Homo sapiens: one gene and its partners. The protein of the gene in region 5 interacts with the protein of the main gene of each other region in a biochemical or structural test. Each region holds a gene or a part of one and is shown on either strand. Other genes may lie near its edges. The genes, in order: MAPK8, USP5, MAPK14, EIF3M and METTL3.

What was found.
Region 1: of the proteins of METTL3 (region 5) and MAPK8, one has a biochemical effect on the other in vitro, tested with the Homo sapiens proteins (one study listed by BioGRID).
Region 2: of the proteins of METTL3 (region 5) and USP5, one has a biochemical effect on the other in vitro, tested with the Homo sapiens proteins (one study listed by BioGRID).
Region 3: of the proteins of METTL3 (region 5) and MAPK14, one has a biochemical effect on the other in vitro, tested with the Homo sapiens proteins (one study listed by BioGRID).
Region 4: the proteins of METTL3 (region 5) and EIF3M form a complex in vitro, tested with the Homo sapiens proteins (one study listed by BioGRID).

The regions. Positions count from the first base shown.
Region 1 is NC_000010.11:48,435,667-48,439,867, forward strand, and holds the end of MAPK8 (mitogen-activated protein kinase 8), read left to right. Parts: 3' UTR 1-3,694; downstream 3,695-4,201. UniProt on the Homo sapiens protein: Serine/threonine-protein kinase involved in various processes such as cell proliferation, differentiation, migration, transformation and programmed cell death.
Region 2 is NC_000012.12:6,858,636-6,862,152, forward strand, and holds part of USP5 (ubiquitin carboxyl-terminal hydrolase 5), read left to right. Parts: intron 1-834; coding exon 835-906; intron 907-1,515; coding exon 1,516-1,603; intron 1,604-1,730; coding exon 1,731-1,856; intron 1,857-2,317; coding exon 2,318-2,471; intron 2,472-2,807; coding exon 2,808-2,982; intron 2,983-3,517. UniProt on the Homo sapiens protein: Deubiquitinating enzyme that participates in a wide range of cellular processes by specifically cleaving isopeptide bonds between ubiquitin and substrate proteins or ubiquitin itself.
Region 3 is NC_000006.12:36,076,308-36,079,824, forward strand, and holds part of MAPK14 (mitogen-activated protein kinase 14), read left to right. Parts: intron 1-229; coding exon 230-301; intron 302-1,527; exon of another isoform or gene 1,528-1,557; intron 1,558-3,517. UniProt on the Homo sapiens protein: Serine/threonine kinase which acts as an essential component of the MAP kinase signal transduction pathway.
Region 4 is NC_000011.10:32,593,825-32,597,341, forward strand, and holds part of EIF3M (eukaryotic translation initiation factor 3 subunit M), read left to right. Parts: intron 1-41; coding exon 42-125; intron 126-1,089; coding exon 1,090-1,189; intron 1,190-2,141; coding exon 2,142-2,223; intron 2,224-3,517. UniProt on the Homo sapiens protein: Component of the eukaryotic translation initiation factor 3 (eIF-3) complex, which is required for several steps in the initiation of protein synthesis.
Region 5 is NC_000014.9:21,501,325-21,504,841, reverse strand, and holds part of METTL3 (N(6)-adenosine-methyltransferase catalytic subunit METTL3), read left to right. Parts: intron 1-960; coding exon 961-1,178; intron 1,179-1,264; coding exon 1,265-1,669; intron 1,670-2,938; coding exon 2,939-3,114; coding exon of another isoform or gene 3,115-3,133; exon of another isoform or gene 3,134-3,134; intron 3,135-3,517. UniProt on the Homo sapiens protein: The METTL3-METTL14 heterodimer forms a N6-methyltransferase complex that methylates adenosine residues at the N(6) position of some RNAs and regulates various processes such as the circadian clock, differentiation of embryonic and hematopoietic stem cells, cortical neurogenesis, response to DNA damage, differentiation of T-cells and primary miRNA processing.

The DNA of each region.
Region 1 (4,201 bases), on a different chromosome or scaffold from region 5:
TCTAAATGGCAGAATAACTCAGAGCATGTCTTTGAAGATGCTGGGCGTCTACCACCACCTTATGTCCCCACCCTACCCAACAAAAATAAGTAAAAAGAATATGGTGTATTCTACAAATTTGTGGCATGCTCAAAGTTTATGATCACATAAAGGCAAGAGGATACTTCATGAATAATACATTTCAATGCAAATAAACAGATGGTTCACTTCTACTAGCTATGAGCCTGTTTTTGTATACACTGAGTTAATCTACTCAGGCTGTAGGTCCCAGCAATGTTCTAGAGTCTGGTCTTTCCCTTTCCTGCAGCTTCGGGTCCTTGGACCTTTCCTGTTTCCTATTACTTGGAGTGTCTGTCAGTTGAGCACCAGTTGTTCTGGTGTTTCATTTGATTCTACTTGTAGCATAATCATTTATACGAGCTATTGGGAGGTTCCAAACCCTACCTAGATTTGTGTAGGTGATGTATCAAATGAGCAATATACCGTTCATCTGAAAATAGTAGCACACAGCCATATATAGGATATCATTTTCTAAGGACTGTTTCTTCACATTGAGCAGAGCAGGCATAAATGGTGGTTATTTAGTCTAAGTCTTTTATTTTTTTATACCTGATTTTCAACATAACACGCAATGTGGATGTCGAGTAGTGTTAAGAATGGTGCTGCTCCTGACAAGTGTATGTTAACTGTTTACATTTTCTATCTGTAGAATTATTTCTCTATTACTGAACTTTTCCTAAGTAAAATGTCTTTGAAGTCTCGTTATTTCTGAAATACGTTGTCTGTAATAGACCCAGGCACCTTTTAAATTATCTCTGGAACAAGAGGGATTTCATGTAATGAACTAGGAAATGCATACTCACATAAGCAACAAGGTTCTAGGCAGAAAGCCCCTTGGAATTTGTGACCAACAGGAGCAAGAACAGGTGCGGCTCAACATGCAATGTCTGAAAATTTGCTTGGCATTTTATTCATATATTTAGTGCAAAATTATTTTTGAGTGAGATATTTTACATCACTGTTAATGTGCAATATTTAAGATTAAAATACATTAGCTTTTTTATATACTTTGAAGTAGCAAGTTTGTTTTCGATGGCTTAGAGTCATGATTTCCAGCTTCCCAGCCTTTTTATCAGTCCCTTTTCTAATACAACAAGGTGCATTAATTTGATTAGGCAAATTAGAGTTCTAAGACACTTCTTGAATTGTAGACAGAAAATATTGGATTCACAATTTCAGCAGAAATTTGAGAATGAGTGTGTTTATATTAATTTCACAATTAGCTGTATTTTCTGTAGCATAGATTATGTCACTGTTGCACTTTCACAGCAGACATGCTTTCAGAAGGTTCTCATATTTTATGTTTGATTGCTGATAAGCCATCTCTATTGATACAGATTTTGGTTAAGTAAGGAAAACCAGGTGTGTGTCTGTATCATTTATTGTAAATGCCAGCTGCCACTTGCCAACCATCATGTTCAGTTCAATTCAAAGAAAACAAACTCTCATTACTTAGTGTAAACTAAAATACTTAACAAATTATATCCTAAAAACAAGGTCTCTTTGTTAAATGTTGCATGCCCTAGGTTTTAAATTACTACATCCAAATACAGTTTTCGTCTTAAATTTGTTAAGCTAAATATATGTTGGTTCTTTTTATTTTGGAATCCTTTAAGCATCTTAAACATTTTTTTTTTGAAGAGAAGTTACAAATAACATTTCTATCAGGTAGTACTTGTATGAAACCACCTTTCTTATTCTATAATTTTGATTTTTCAATTTTATATACTTAATATACTCACTGTCTTACTATCAGAAAGTTATTTTGACCAAGATTTTTATTATCTTCATAGATTCAGAAAGAGATGCTAATTCTGTACCAATGTCTTCCTGGTTACTATTCTCTTCCCTCTAATATATACTGGCCATTTGTAAAACCATTGTGTTGTTGGGATCACTTAGTTATACTATACGCAGATAGAGCATCTCAACTCTGTCATAGTGTTTGCTGAACAGTTTTCAGTGTCATGCACCTTTGGCTGCTAATTGTTCCTGACGTGCACTCTTCCGAGTTGGTAAAGGCACAGTGTGTTCATGCCAGACTTCTAAGAGAAACACCAGCCTCTTAAATCAGAAGCCTACACACAACCCCCTTAACAATCCAAAGAAGCTTGATGGTGTGCAAAGAAGCATCCTGCCAGCCTTGTCATTGTTCTGTTCTATGCTAATCCTGCTGTGTTGTCTAAAAGATGGAGGGAAGAGGACATCAGTGTCTGATAGTGAAATCATCAGCAGGAAAGTGAAGCTCTTTCCTTGGTTACAGATAAGACTTGGTTTACACTATTGGCCAGTATCTGCTAAACATATGAAGACTTAACTATTCAGTGTTGCCTAGGCATTCGCCTGCACAACATTTTGAGGTTAGAACATAGAATATTTTCAGAAATACTGTTGTAGTTTGTGAGTGTTGTTCATTAGTTACACATTAGCTATAGAGTGGATGCATGAAGCCCCATGACACCAGTAAACTTCTCTTACCAGTAGGTAAACCAAACACCATTCTGTCATTAGCAGCCCTCTTAAATGTTGCCTCTCCGTATCCTGTTGCATTTTTGTGTGCATTGTGTTTCTACTGATCTCTCTTAGGTTTTTACGGAATCAAAGGAAACTAATTTTTCCTTAATAGCAAGAAAGATGAAGAGGTAAAGGGCATTGAAGCAGAAATGTATAGTTTGGGGTACGATTAGAAAACTCGTAAGGAAAACAGAAGTCCTAATTTCAAACTGACTGCTCTTCGTTAAGTGCTCTTAAGGAGAGTCTAGTAACAGTAACACTTTCTGGCCATTTCTAGTTTAGATTCTCTTCGTTACTGAAACTTTTGAGAAATATTACCTGTGGATTAATTTTGCACAATGTTCTATTCTCATAATGACTTACAAATTAAACTAGGTTTTTATTGAACTACCTCACACTAATTTTCTATGCTTTCCCAAGTAAGCTGTTGCCCTGTTAGATCTTTACTGAGTGAATTATAAATGTGTGTTAAATACTTTCTAGCCAATGTTGACACAATACCAGTAAGTATGTAAAGTATATACCTTACATCAGTAAGAGACACGTGTAAAATCTTTGACTGTATGTCTTGCAAAATTGTGCTCGTTGACATTATTACTGTTTTTGTAAGTAGAAACCTGCTCGTGATATCGGTCCATTTACATTTTACAAAAGGAGTAAATCTTAGTAAAAATTTTACGAAGAAATAAATTACTTTTGTAGGCCCAATATTTGGTATATTTTTGAGAAGCTGTTAATCTTTTAGCTGAATAATGAAGTTAGACTGAATTACGTGTCTCCCTGGACTGTGACATCTATTTTCTCATTACAGTTTATCCTGGTCAGCAGGGTGTCACACCTGGAAACCTGAGTATGATAGCTGACATTTGCTTTTCTCCCTCTGCGATGTCATTCCTCCTCCATTCCTCTCCTTCCCTGTGTTCCGTTCCCTCTCCTTTCCTCTAGACAAAACAAAATGGGGCACTTTTTAGGGAATGCTGAGATCATTATTGTGGTTTTTCATCATTCATGCCCTAGTCATTAAACATGCACCACTGGAATGTAAACAATGTTATCTAGTATGTCAATTGGTTATAATATTTTAAATAAAAAAGAAAAAAGTGGTATGAAAATTATGAAATTAAGAGTTTTTTCATTGAAAACAAAATCTGTTTGTGGTAAAGTTTTTCTTGGCAATTTTAGGATTGTCCGTGGATTGGGATAAAAGGGGTCTTGCTAGGGCCGGTTTCTTAGATTTGGATTTTGTACAGATTGTAAAGAGCCTAAATGATCACGCTGATTATCTGGTTGATCTGGTCTTGGATTTCTGGTGTTTGAAATTGCTGGATAAACTTTATCTAAAAAAGGAACTTTGCTTCAATGCCCTTAACCTAGTTCTTGGTAGACATATGAGAGAACAGCCATCGTGACCACTTGGCAAAAATAAGTACTTAAAATTGGGGTCTGTTTCAAAACAAGCAAGAGGTTTTAGCTTTGACTGTTTCCAACTTTTGCCATGCTTATTTCCTCTTTGCCTACGTTGGGTCTGCTGCTGTGTGGGAATACAGGGTCCCTGCAGTACCTTCCCAGCCACTGTAATGACGCCACTCCGTCTTGCACAGTTCCTGCTCCAAATGACCTTTGTACC
Region 2 (3,517 bases), on a different chromosome or scaffold from region 5:
TTCCCCAGGCCCCCTCCTGGTCAGCACCCTCTGGGCATACTCCTCCTTCAGCTTCCCTCAGCACCTCTGTGTTTGATTCTAGTCTTAGAGTAGTTCCTATCGGCTGGGTGTGTTGGCCCACACCCGTAATCCCAGTACTTCGGGAGGCCAAGATGGGAGAATTGCTTGAGCCCAGGAGGTTGAGACCAGCCTGGGCAACATAGCGAGACCCTGTCTTCTCTTAAAAAAAAAAAAGAATAATTCCTGTCACACTCTGGCTGACATGCTGTGAGGGGAGCAAGTTAGGGAGCTGCACCACCAGCACCCCAACACACAAACCCCACTGATAGTGCAGAGTGCCAAGTCCCAGGGCTCTGTGGCCTTCTGACAGACTCAAGGGTTAGCAGGTGGTCTTTATTTTAGGGCAGTGACATCAGATGAGCACCTAACATGGACATGTAGCACTTGGGGAGGAGGGGGGCTTGGCACACTAAGAATAAAGGCAGGTTCTCAGCAGAAATGAGTTTACTTTCGAATTTGGGGAACAATTAGAATGTGAATGCTCAGAACATGTCAACAGGTTCTGTCCAATAGAACGTGAACTGCACTTATCCTAATCCCAGGCTACCTTCCCCCTCCCCGGCTCCTCTGCCGCCGAGCGTGCTTGCACATTGGACATAGCTGAGAAGGGGAGAACAGGCAGGTTGCTGGAGAGAAGCGACTCCAAGGTTCACCCACAGCAACTCCCCACTCTTGAGGGGAGCCCGTTCACAGAGTTAGTAAATGTTTGCTTCCTTCCCTTTTCCTCGGCGCTCAGGCCAGAGCCCCTCCAACTGTCCTTCCCTTGACTTTTAGGTATGTGGATAAGCTGGAGAAGATCTTCCAGAATGCCCCGACGGACCCTACCCAGGATTTCAGCACCCAGGTGTATGTAACCAGGTCCTATGTAGGAAAGCTGTTGACAGTCATGGCCGTATACCTTCCTCCTCCCTGACCGCCTGGGGGGCACAGCACTTTAACCCCTGGCCTTTTTTTGTTTTGTTTTGTTTTGTTTTTTGAGACGGAGTCTTGTTCTGTTGCCAGGCTGGAGTGCAGTGGCGCGATCTCGGCTCACTACAACCTCTGCCTCCTGGGTTCAAGTGATTCTCCTGCCTCAGTCTCCTGAGTAGCTAGGACTACAGGCACATGCCACCACGCCCAGCTAAATTTTTTTTGTATTTTTAGTAGAGACGGGGTTTCATCATGTTGGCCAGGATGGTCTCGATCTCCTGACCTCGTGGTCTGCCCACCTCGGCCTCCCAAAGTGCTGGGATTACAGGCGTGAGCCACCGTGCACGGCCACCACTGGCCTATTAGGAGCATTCGGGTGACTGTCTTCTGGACGTGTTGTCTGTCTTGAGCTGGGTTCCTGTAGAATCTAAGGTTTTTCACGTTGTTGAGAGTTAGCTAGGGAGAGCCACGAGCAGGGGGTTGAGCTGGGGACACACAGGGTCGTTAGTTGACTGAAGTGAAATGTTTTCTTGGATATTAATGCAGGGCCAAGCTGGGCCATGGCCTTCTCTCCGGGGAGTATTCCAAGCCAGTACCGGAGTCGGGCGATGGGGAGCGGGTGCCAGAACAGAAGGTGCGTCTAGGACCCTGTCCCTTTCAGGCCCTGGGATTGTGGGGAAGCTGAGGTCTGGGAGATGTCTAAAGAAGGCCCCTGGATGGCCACTGAGCCCCAGCTGAGTCCCTGCCCTGACTCTTCCCAGGAAGTTCAAGATGGCATTGCCCCTCGGATGTTCAAGGCCCTCATCGGCAAGGGCCACCCTGAATTCTCCACCAACCGGCAGCAGGATGCCCAGGAGTTCTTCCTTCACCTTATCAACATGGTGGAGGTAAGGGCTGGCAAGATGGCACACCCCCATCTTCCTGCAATTTACTCGCTCTCCTTCCTGCCCATTTCTCCCTCTATCAGCCCCAACCCAGTCCCATCCCTGAACCCCAACAGTCTGTGTCCCTGTGAACAGTGCTTGCACCTGAGGAGGACAGTGAAGGTGATGATCCCTACCCTTGATGGGCTTGAAGCCCAATTCAGATTATGCCCAAAGACAATGATAAGAGAATACTTGCTGCTTATAAAGAAAAATACAAGCGTGTTCTAACACAGTCCCTCAGTGCAGGGATGGGGCCAGAAATGGGGAGGGGTTGGTGAATTAGGGAAGGTTTCTGCTCTGCTCTTGTGTCCCTGAGTTCCGAGTGGTAGTCTGCCTTCTCTCCCTGACTCTCCCATGAACCTTTCAGGCCCCATTCTGTTCCCTGGCTGCCCAGACCTCCCTACCCTGCCTCTTTCCCATAGAGGAATTGCCGGAGCTCTGAAAATCCTAATGAAGTGTTCCGCTTCTTGGTGGAGGAAAAGATCAAGTGCCTGGCCACAGAGAAGGTGAAGTACACCCAGCGAGTTGACTACATCATGCAGCTGCCTGTGCCCATGGATGCAGCCCTTAACAAAGGTAGGCTGCTCCATCAGCAAGGCCGTGGCACGGTGGGAGGCTAAGGTCTAGGAGGAATGCTTGGGCACCTCATGGGAGCACAGCCCAGGGAATGCCCTGCTTCACCAGCCAAGGTTCCAGTCTGGGCCACCAGGAGTAGGTAGATTAACCTCGTCCAGTGGACACTCAGCTTGTTAGCAGAGCTGCATGGAAACAGGCGAGATATATTGGACATGTGTCAGGGGTGCTTTGGAAGGGTAGAGGAACTGAAATACGGACACAGAGCCAGTAGGGAGAGGCTAAGGAGGCAAAGAAGCAGCACCCTCCGAAGGATCCACCAACCCATTCTGTCACCAGAGGAGCTTCTGGAGTACGAGGAGAAGAAGCGGCAAGCCGAAGAGGAGAAGATGGCACTGCCAGAACTGGTTCGGGCCCAGGTGCCCTTCAGCTCTTGCCTGGAGGCCTACGGGGCCCCTGAGCAGGTCGATGACTTCTGGAGCACGGCCCTGCAGGCCAAGTCAGTAGCTGTCAAGTAAGTCCTCTGGTCGGGGCCTGAGGCTGTGGGTCTATGGCAGAGCTATCCCAGAGGATACTTCTGTCTCTTCCCTGTTCTTTCATCCCTTTGTGGTTGGAACCTCAGGGTTGAATCAGTTGGGCTGGTAATCTGGCCCTGATGGAACCAAGGGGCCCTGGTAGGGGGGACACGGGTACTGACTCTATCTGTCACCTTGTCCTGCCCCAACCACTCCCTCTTCTGTGGCACAGGGTCTCTTTGTAGTGTAGCCTCTCTTCATTGCCCCTCAGTCATGGCTGAGCACAGGCACTTAGGATCAGCTGTGGGCAGAATTTGGATTTCCAGCAAATAGCCACACTTTGAGCCTAGCCATTGGCACCTGGCATGGGTGTGAGACCTGAAAAAGGGCTTTGGTCTCGGGGAGTCAGCTACCCAGCCCTTTGCTGCTCCTGCCAGTGAAACAGCTCTTCCTCTCTGTGTGGGTTTTTTTTTTTTTTCTATGTGTGGGTCTTGCTATGTTTTTTTCCCTACGTGTGGGTCTTGCTATGTTGCC
Region 3 (3,517 bases), on a different chromosome or scaffold from region 5:
CAGCTTATTTCTCTTAAGTGTGTTTTGACTTACCCCACCTTTGAACAGCCCTTTAGTCAGGTGAAGATCTTAGTAAGCTATTTATTTCTGTAAAAATGAGTATGATTGTTGAGCCTCAGATGTCTTAAATAGTAATTTGAATATTTCACCCCTAGTTACGGTTTCATTTGTTGCCAAGAATTGTAACAGTGACATTGCATATACTTTTACTTCTTTTTAATTTTGCCAGTTGATATTTGGTCAGTGGGATGCATAATGGCCGAGCTGTTGACTGGAAGAACATTGTTTCCTGGTACAGACCGTATCCTTTAAAAAGTTTTGGATTCTTGTTTCTTATCTGTATTCCAGTGTCCATGGGTGTATACTCCTTTTACTTATCTCTAGGGAAGACTCTCAGTATTTTGCTTTTATAGTCTAGATAATGCATTATGAGGTCTTTCTTCAAACTGAGTAGCTTGCCTTGCCAAGAAAGAGGCTTCAGTTTACTTTTGTGAGTTGGAAAAATTCCTCATAAGTTGAAAAACCCATCAAGTCTGTCTTCTTTTTGCAACAGTCCCTTATTAATCATCCCACAGCAGTTCTGAGACCTGAGCATACTCATGAGAAACTCCAGATCCCAGTGACAGTTTTAGTCTTCTTGTATAAACACTTAATGAGCACAAGATGCCCATTTATAAATGAAGGGCATCTTGCTGTTATGTTTATGTATTAAAAGGGCTATGTTTGGTACCTGCAGTGATATACTGCTTACTTGTTATGTTTGTTGTTTGACAACAAATAGTAAAAGCAAGAAGTGAAAAGCTTACCATGTAATGTACTTTTGTTTTTCCAGCACAACTTTTTCCCAGATTGCAGCCAAACCCTAATTTACTCCAAGACTTACTGTCTAGTTTATGGTTTATTATAGCCCCTTTATTTTAGCTCCTTTCCTATCTGCGGTATGCTTGTTTCATGGTTTAGTATTAATGTCATGAAAAATGTGGTCTGTTGGAACTCTCATCAGTTCTACTTATGGAAGATGTTTAGGTGAGAAAGATTGTTAAAATATATGTCTAGAATTAGTTTTGGGGATTTTTTCTTTTTTTAATAGAATTGAGTTAACTAGCCTTCAGGTGGTTTTGGTTAGGCAATATTAGACATGCTACCTCTGATCTATTATGCCTAGAGATCTAAAAGCCATTTTAGTCCCTTACCTAAATAAACTAATTGAGTTTATAAACCAGAATGTCAATTCACTTGCTTACAGTTTGGGATATACTTCTGTAATGGCTATGATGTTCATGATATCTACCCACGTGTTCTAACTATCTTCTGCTAGAGAGAATGTACTTTCATTATGAACTGAAAAAACCTCTATTTCTCAGGTAAAGCTGTTTCTTTCTCTCTGAATATTAGGATTGATAACAGAGTTCAGTCTCCCTGTATTTAGCTTACCTTATTACTCCCTACCTCTGGATTTTAAATTAGTTTAATACCTGGTGTTTCTCCTTTGTCCTTTGTTTCATTCACCTTATATCTGTTTCTCAGAAATTTGGTATATATATATTACAGTCCAAGGTAAGAGAATTAGGGAAAATTCATACTTCCCCCTTTCCTCAGGTACATATCTCAGAGTCCCATCCTTGCTTTGTCCTCTAGAGTAGCTGCTGTCCTGATGCTATTCTCTGTTCCCTGCTCCCCTTCCTCTTCTTGTGTCTGTATCTCCAGCTACCATTTAGTCAGTCACAGACCTCCATGCCGGTGTAGACACACAAGGTGGCAGAGAGGGAAAGGCAGTATAACATACAGGTTAAGCACATGCTCTGGAGCCAGATTTCCTGGATTTAGATCTTAGCTCTTTTATTTCCAGCTATGTAACTTTGAGTAAGTTTCCTAACCTCTATTTCTCTCAGTTTCCTTAACCGTAAAATGATAATAATCATACATACTCACAAGGTTGTCGTAAGAATTCAGCCAGAAAATAACTGGAAAGTACTGAGACGAGCCTGCCAGTAAATGTTAGCCATCATGTTCAGTAATGGCCTTGCAAAACAGATTACCCCTTCACCTTCTCACTTAATTGTCTACCTATGAATCATTAATGTTTTGTTTTGTTTTTAATTCTGTGATAGGTAGGAAAGGATGGAACTCCTTGGCAGACTAGTGTTAGAAAGTTTTCGAAGCAGTGTGAGTCTTGTACCTTTGTGGTCCTGTCTCACAGACACCTGTCTATTCCCTGACCCTTTTAAATGCTAACTTTCTGCCTGTAGGAAATCTTCCCTTTGTGCTTAGGTCTTTTTCTTCTGTGAGCTTTAGATAAACAACCTAGTGTTTAAACTTTTTAATAAGGGATTCATTTTTTAATACATGAGAATTCATTTCAAAATTTTGGTTTTAGTTATTTATTTTATTCTACTTGGCTCTTTTTCAGACAGATGTTCTCTCCTGGATTGTAAAAGTCGAATTCAAAGGATTTTTATTTGTAATATACTTAACCTTTCTCTTGTAAGTTGCCATCTGTGTAGATACAGCTTTGATTGCCTGACAAGAGGAAAATGTTTCCCATTATCTTTTCCTGCCTGAACTATACGGTCACTTGTGTTCCAGCATAGTGGTTCTTAACCCTCATAGTGTGTCAGAATCACTTTGCAGAGCTTTTAAAAACTCTAGATGCCTGGGGACCACCCCAAAGACTCCATTTTGTTGTCATGGGTCAAAGCACAGTCTTCTAGTTTGCAGCTAGTGTTGAGTACAACTAGAGTTTAACCCAGTTGAATTTTAGTTTAATCTTGGCTGGTCTTGAAGATGTTAGTAATCTCTATTCATTTTTTTTGAAAAGTACCAATGAGATCAGAAAGTTAATTAGAAAACATCTAGTTGAATCCCCTGTTTTTAATAGATGGGGAAACCAAGACCCAGAGAATATAATCCAAAGCTACCTGTCACATAGGCCACAATTTCTTTTCCAATATTCTGTTCTTCGCTGTTCTTCTAATTTGCAGAACTCCTCTTTAAAAAACCTTTGGAGAATGTATTGGCCTCATACCCTCTTCCTTCAGCCTGAAAGACATGCACCTGTCACTTATTTATGATATTTAAATGCAACCTCTAGAACAGGGGTGTCCAATCTTCTGGCTTCCCTGGGCCACATTGGAAGAAGAAATGTCCTGGGCCACACATAAAATACACTAATGATAGCCGATGAACTTAAAAAAAATTGCAAAAAAAAAATCTCGTAATGTTTTCAGAAAGTTTACAAATTTGTGATGGGCTGCATCCAAAGCCCTGGGCCACGTGCAGCCCGCAGGCCCTGGGTTGGAAAAGCTTGCTCTAGAAGGTACTCATTGTTTGAGTGTCCAGTTTTCTCCCTGTTTTCCTTATTTATTGATCATTTTGCATTTGGAATTGGTGGTTTGGGCTTGTAAGTAAGAACTGTGTACTAGAACTTTTGTGGTATTGCAAATGTTTTATATCTGTGCTATCCAATGTGGTGGTTATAGGCACCAGCTGCCTGTGGCTAATTATTAAGCAACTGAAA
Region 4 (3,517 bases), on a different chromosome or scaffold from region 5:
CAGTAATGCTTTCAAGTTCCTAAAGCAATATTTCTTTTTAGTGATGCTGCTTCAAAAGTCATGGTGGAATTGCTCGGAAGTTACACAGAGGACAATGCTTCCCAGGCTCGAGTTGATGCCCACAGGTAATGTTAAACGTTACTCTGATGAGGGTTTGACAGCGATGTAGAGGTAAGCTACAATATTAAATTAAGTAACTGAAATCATGTTTGCAACTACCAGTGATCCAGAGCCATTTGATAGTGTGTATTTCCTGGTGATTCTAATGTAGATACTAAAATTCAAGGTTTGATATTGGAAGAACTGTGGATTGAATATGAAGTAGCTGCATGGCGTTTACCTGGCGGGGGGGGTATTGCTGGTATGGGGATGATGATCCCAACCCAAGAATTAGAACCTAATCTTGGGCCAATTGACCCTAATTTTAAGGTTATAGGTGGAAAGTTGATGGCTTGCCAAAAATTAACCCATTGCTAATGAGTATAAGGGCTTTTAACAGTCTTAGATCTAACTGGTAACAAGAATAGAATCAGTTTTCTAAATCTATGTAATAAGGATTATGAAACTTCTTTTTTTGGTCATTGCTTTGTGTGGACCTCTACATGATAGGAGTTGGTAAAAAGGGAAGTTGGTGGTAAAGATCCTTGACTTTGAGGTCAGGCTGCCTCCATTCACATTCTTACTCCACCTCTTAATGAGCACTTCTGAACTGCTTCATAGTTGATAAAGGGGGCAGAGTAATACTGTTTGTCTCCTAGGTTGTTGTGAGGAATAAATGAGATGTAAGGCAAGTGAAGCACTTAGTGTCTTGGCATGTGGTTCTGCTGCTGCTTACTATTTGATTACCTTGGTGCTTTCTCTCCAGCTATGTTTTTATCTACAATTAATATATTTCATTTTGTTAAAACAGATGAACCTGATAAATGTGTTGGCCTGTCTTAACCCAATCCTGTAGCTTTTTTAATGTTGTTTATATGTTTTGGACTGTTAGATATTTTGCCGAATTAAGTATATTTTATGATCTGCAAAAACTCAATGAAAAGCCAGGATTTCAAAACCCTGAGCTTACATTTTTGTTCTCTAATTAAGGTGTATTGTACGAGCATTGAAAGATCCAAATGCATTTCTTTTTGACCACCTTCTTACTTTAAAACCAGTCAAGTTTTTGGAAGGCGAGCTTATTCATGATGTAAGTAGTTTATCCTTTAATGTGAAAAATGTTCTCCTTTCCTAAATTTTACATACTGAAGCAGGACTCTTTTTCTTTGCATTAATAAAAGTGACTAATGGCAAGATATGGAAAGATTAAGAACTATGTATTCTTTTTATATCAGGAACAGACATATTTAGGACCAGCTTTTCTTCATCCACTGAGCAGAGTCCTATTCTTCCTCCCTTTCTTAATTTCTTTTTTTTTTTTGAGACTGAGTCTCACTCTGTCACCAGGCTGGAGTGCGGTGGCATGATCTTGGCTCACTGCAACCTCTGCCTCCCTGATTTAAGCAATTCTCCTGCCTCAGCTTCCAGGAGAAGTAGCTGGGATTACAGGCACATGCCATCAGGCCCAGCTAATTTTTGTATTTTTAGTAGATACAGAGTTTTGCCATGTTGGTCTGGTCTCCGACTCCTGACCCCCCTGACCCCAAATGATCTGCCCACTTCGGCCTCCCAGAGTGCTGGGATTACAGGCGTGAGCCACTGTGCCCGGCTACCTCCCTTTCTTTCATCTTCTCACTTACTCATCATTATAGACTTAGATAATACAAGTTTCTTTTTTATTACATATATATTGTTCCTAGCCCCACTTAGGAATATAAGTCTGATATTTAAAAACACATGAACATTTTTCAAATGCAAGTATAAATATATTTTGGACTGTTGTGCATCTGGACTATGCCATTAGCCATCATCTTTCAGTGTGGATAATTTAGAGCTCAGTGTATTTACTGATTATTTCATTTTAAAAGTGAGCCATGTGAAAGCAGATGGTTTGGTAATTTGATGAAACAGAATGATATTTCTGCCTTGAACAAAATGTAGGAGTCAGTATCTTTAAAATAATATTTACAATATCTTAGAATATCTTACAATAAATCTGAATTCTGTATTGATGGTATCTTTTTTGTCTCTTATCTGTATAGCTTTTAACCATTTTTGTGAGTGCTAAATTGGCATCATATGTCAAGTTTTATCAGAATAATAAAGACTTCATTGATTCACTTGGTAAGTTTTGGGGTTTATTCTTTGAGGCACAGAGGTGGGAACATGATACACTAACAGTTATGTACTATGTGTTCCAGCAAGTATGGCTGTGGCCTTATTTGTAGATTATCCTAAAAGGAGTCGTGTATGATAGAACAGCACAAAAATAGGTAGACAGTTTAAAATATTACTTAGAATGAATTGAGAATCAGAAACCAAGAAGGTGTAGGAGGTGGCATTTGTGATAGAAAGAGAATGAAACTGGGAGTATGAAAACAACTCGGGGCCCAGCGCGGTGGCTTAGAGGTATAATCCCAGCACTTTGGAGGCCGAGGCGGGCGGATCACGAGGTCAGGAGGTCGAGACCATCTTGGCTGACTAACATGGTGAAACCCTGTCTCTACTAAAAATACAAAAAATTAGCCGGGCGCGGTGGCGGGTGCCCGTAGTCCCAGCTACTTGAGAGGCTGAGGCAGGAGAATAGCTTGAACCCGGGAGATGGAGGCGGAGGTTGCAGTGAGCCAAGACTGTGCCACTGCACTCCAGCCTCGGCAACAGAGCAAGAGTCTGTCTCAAAAAAAAAAAAAAAAAAAAGAAAGAAAAGAAAACAACTTAGCACTTGTAATCCCAGCACTTTGGGAGGATGAGGTGGGTGGATCACTTGAGGTCAGGAGTTCAAGACCAGCCTGGCCAACATGGCAAAACCCCATTTCTACTAAAAATACAAAAATTAGTGGGCATGGTGGCACATACCTGTAGTGCCAACTACTCAGGAGCCTTAGGCAAGAGAACCACTTGAACCCGGGAGGCAGAGGTTGCAGTGAGTTCAGATCACACTGCTGCACTCCAGCCTGGATGACAGAGTGAGGCTCCATCTCAAAAAACAAAAAAAAAAGAGAGAGAAAATGACTTGGAACCTTTTTGTCTCATTTAAGAGCTTGCTGAACTTTAGGCCCTTCCAGCTCTTCTGTACCATGATTCTTTGAGGTAAAGTTATATCAACAATCGGGTGTTTGGAGAAGATTGAAGAAATAGTTCCATTGGTACATTTGTTTTTAAAATTTAGAGATGGAGGAGTGAGCAGAAAAGCAACTGAAAGAATTACCATTACTTTGATCATAATGGTAACTTTCAGAAATGTTTTAAGAGCTGATAAAATTTGATGATTAAAGGTACTTTATTAAGCTAAACATTATTCTTAAAATAATATTGTTTCTTTGTAGAAGACTTTATTCCTTAGATATATGGTGATTTGTATTTTTGGTCCCTTTTTTTAAGCCATAGCCACAGAATGGTAACAAATAGTTTTTTCCCC
Region 5 (3,517 bases):
CAGCCTCCCCAGTAGCTGGGATTATAACCTTGCATCACCACCCCCAGCTAAATTTTTTTTTTTTTTGTATTTTAGTAGAGATGGGGTTTCACCATGTTGGCCAGGCTGGTCTCGAACTCCTCACCTCAAGTGATCCACCCACCTTGGCCTCCCAGAGTGCTGGGATTACAGGCGTGAGCCCCAGTGCCTTACCAGAATGGAAATATTTAAGTAAACAAAATATTTCTAAATGTAAACTAATGGCCTACTTATTTAGCAATTTCAGTTCAGTTCTTAGGAGTTTAATATTTCATCTATATTTTAATTAACCACAGATATTAGGCTTTCTCAAAGATAACATTTTGTCCTAATTTTAGTTTCTCAAATCGTTATTAAGGTTATGATGGCAACCCAGCTTGTGAAGTAATAGATGATAATAATATAGTCAGGAAATATCATTTGGTAACCAAGGCTTCAGCAAAGTATTAAGATTTTTGTGTTTGTGAGTGTTATAGGTAACACTGTTGGCCCCCAACATTGTCATTTTGTACACTTTGTTGATCAGTGGCCTGAATTCATTAAAATTCACACTACATGCCTCAAAAAGAATATTGGATCCCAGCCTAGGTTGTTGAGTATATTCCTGTCCTTTATTAAAATGTAGGTTGATAGAAAGGTGGTAGGGATATTTAAATCTATCATGCTAATTTACTTTCTTTGTATCACAGCAAGGATAGGGAATTAGGAAAAGATTACTCACTCAATAGAGAAAAGGTAGATAGAAAATCCAGTATTATCTTGACAAAGCAGTGAATGTTTTAGTATGATTGAGGATAGGTAATCTAGTGCTAAAGTTGGTCACAGAATTTCCTGCACAAAATGAAAGATCTGTGTATGGGAATGCTAGAGAATTTGACTTCTCAGAAATATATAGACCAACAGTGGTTGCCTTTTTTCATTTTCACTTCTCTTCATTCTTAGATCTACGGAATCCAGAGGCAGCATTGTCTCCAACCTTCCGTAGTGACAGCCCAGTGCCTACTGCACCCACCTCTGGTGGCCCTAAGCCCAGCACAGCTTCAGCAGTTCCTGAATTAGCTACAGATCCTGAGTTAGAGAAGAAGTTGCTACACCACCTCTCTGATCTGGCCTTAACATTGCCCACTGATGCTGTGTCCATCTGTCTTGCCATCTCCACGGTAATGACCTGACAGAGTTAGGATTTACCACTTATTTTCAGTTCACGGTCAGTGTCTTATTGCCCATACCTCCCCTCGTTCTCTAGCCAGATGCTCCTGCCACTCAAGATGGGGTAGAAAGCCTCCTGCAGAAGTTTGCAGCTCAGGAGTTGATTGAGGTAAAGCGAGGTCTCCTACAAGATGATGCACATCCTACTCTTGTAACCTATGCTGACCATTCCAAGCTCTCTGCCATGATGGGTGCTGTGGCAGAAAAGAAGGGCCCTGGGGAGGTAGCAGGGACTGTCACAGGGCAGAAGCGGCGTGCAGAACAGGACTCGACTACAGTAGCTGCCTTTGCCAGTTCGTTAGTCTCTGGTCTGAACTCTTCAGCATCGGAACCAGCAAAGGAGCCAGCCAAGAAATCAAGGAAACATGCTGCCTCAGATGTTGATCTGGAGATAGAGAGCCTTCTGAACCAACAGTCCACTAAGGAACAACAGAGCAAGAAGGTAGGGGTCATGTGAAAATACTCTCACAATATGCTCTTAATTATAGCTTTGTTTGACAGGGATTTACCCCTAGGGCAAGGAACTGTTTACAGCAGTGGTTCTCAACTGGGGATGATTCCCTACTGCCCAACTCCCAGGGGATCTGGTAATGTCCGGAGACATTTTTATTGTCACACATGGGGGAGTGCTATTGGCATCTAGTGGGGGTAGAGGCCAGGGATGTTGTCAAACATCCTACAGTGCATAGTGGGACAAACCCCCACAACAAACAGTTGTCTGTCCCAAAGTGTCAACAATGCCAATGTCGACAAATTCTTATTTAGATAATCTGTCACTGAATCTGAAAGAATTGGATCAAGAGAAGAGGAATCCAAATATATAGAAATATAGGGAGATGAATGGAGAGGAATACTAGACCAATTATGGAAATTGACTAAATAATGTGAATTGGTTCTGAGTATAAGCATTGGCCTGACATGAGTTCTTATCTGTTTGGTACTTCTAGTGCGTGAGTTTGAACAAGTTAATTAACTTCTCTTGAGCCTTAGTCTTCTCATCTGTAACATGAAGATAATACCAGCGTATCCTGCCTTATAGAATTGAATAGACTCTGAGCTAAAAAGTAAAGTGTTTAGCACTATACTTTTTAGTTCAGCACCCAGTAAATATGTTTTTTGTAGAAGGAATGCCTTCCTGGGGAGGGGATGTTAACATAATGCTTAGCGGTAGGAACCAGGCCTCTTCCATTTTAATTTCATCCCAAATGCATATTTGTGAGGAAGGACTGAACCCCTAACAAATCTCTTATCTGAAGGCTCCAATTTTCCAATATTAAGTTAGCTAATTTAGGTCTAGGCACAATGGCTCATTCCTGTAATCTCAACACTTTGGGAGGCCAAGGCGCGAGGATCACCTGAGGCGAGGAGTTCAAGACCGGCCTGGGCAACATAGACCCTATCCCTATAGAAAGTAAAGTAATTAAAACATTAGCTGGCATGGTGTCACGCACCTATATTCCCAGCTACAATTGAAGGCTGAGCTGGGAGGATCACTTGAGCCTGGGAGTTCAGTGGGAGAAACAGTGAGTTATGATTACACAACTACACTCTGGCCTGGGTGACAGCAAGATCCCATCTCTTAAAAAAAAAAAAAAAAAAAAAGTTGATTTATCTCTTAGAAGACATTAATGTCAAAAAGAATTTGCGGAGTTGGTCTAAGAGCCAATTTGATCTATAAGACATTTTAAGTCCAAGGCTACTTCTGTCACAGGTCAGTCAGGAGATCCTAGAGCTATTAAATACTACAACAGCCAAGGAACAATCCATTGTTGAAAAATTTCGCTCTCGAGGTCGGGCCCAAGTGCAAGAATTCTGTGACTATGGAACCAAGGAGGAGTGCATGAAAGCCAGTGATGCTGATCGACCCTGTCGCAAGCTGCACTTCAGGTCTCTTGGAAGGGAATGAGGTGGGATGGGTTTGTCAGAAGCAGCCATTCCTTTTCAGCATATTCCTTCCAGTCATTGGGGTTCTGTCTGTAATCTTATTTAGTTTATGGTTTGTGTAAGTCCTCCAGACCCTGAAGGTGTACTTTCAGAAGTGCATTGTGTGGGAAGAATACAGGCTGTACTCCCAAATAACTGAGATTTTTTTTTTAAAAGCTCCCTCCCTCTTAGAATAGCAAAGTATGTCTGTCTCTGAGCCACAGTGAAAGTTAAAGTACTCTGAAAGGAGGATAATCTTAGGAGAAAAGGAACCTAAACTCTTAGGTCAGTGTTTTATTCTGTTCTACCCAAGTCTCCTGCACTGCTTGCCTTCCAGTGGTAAAACAGGAAACCAAGTCTTTACTCA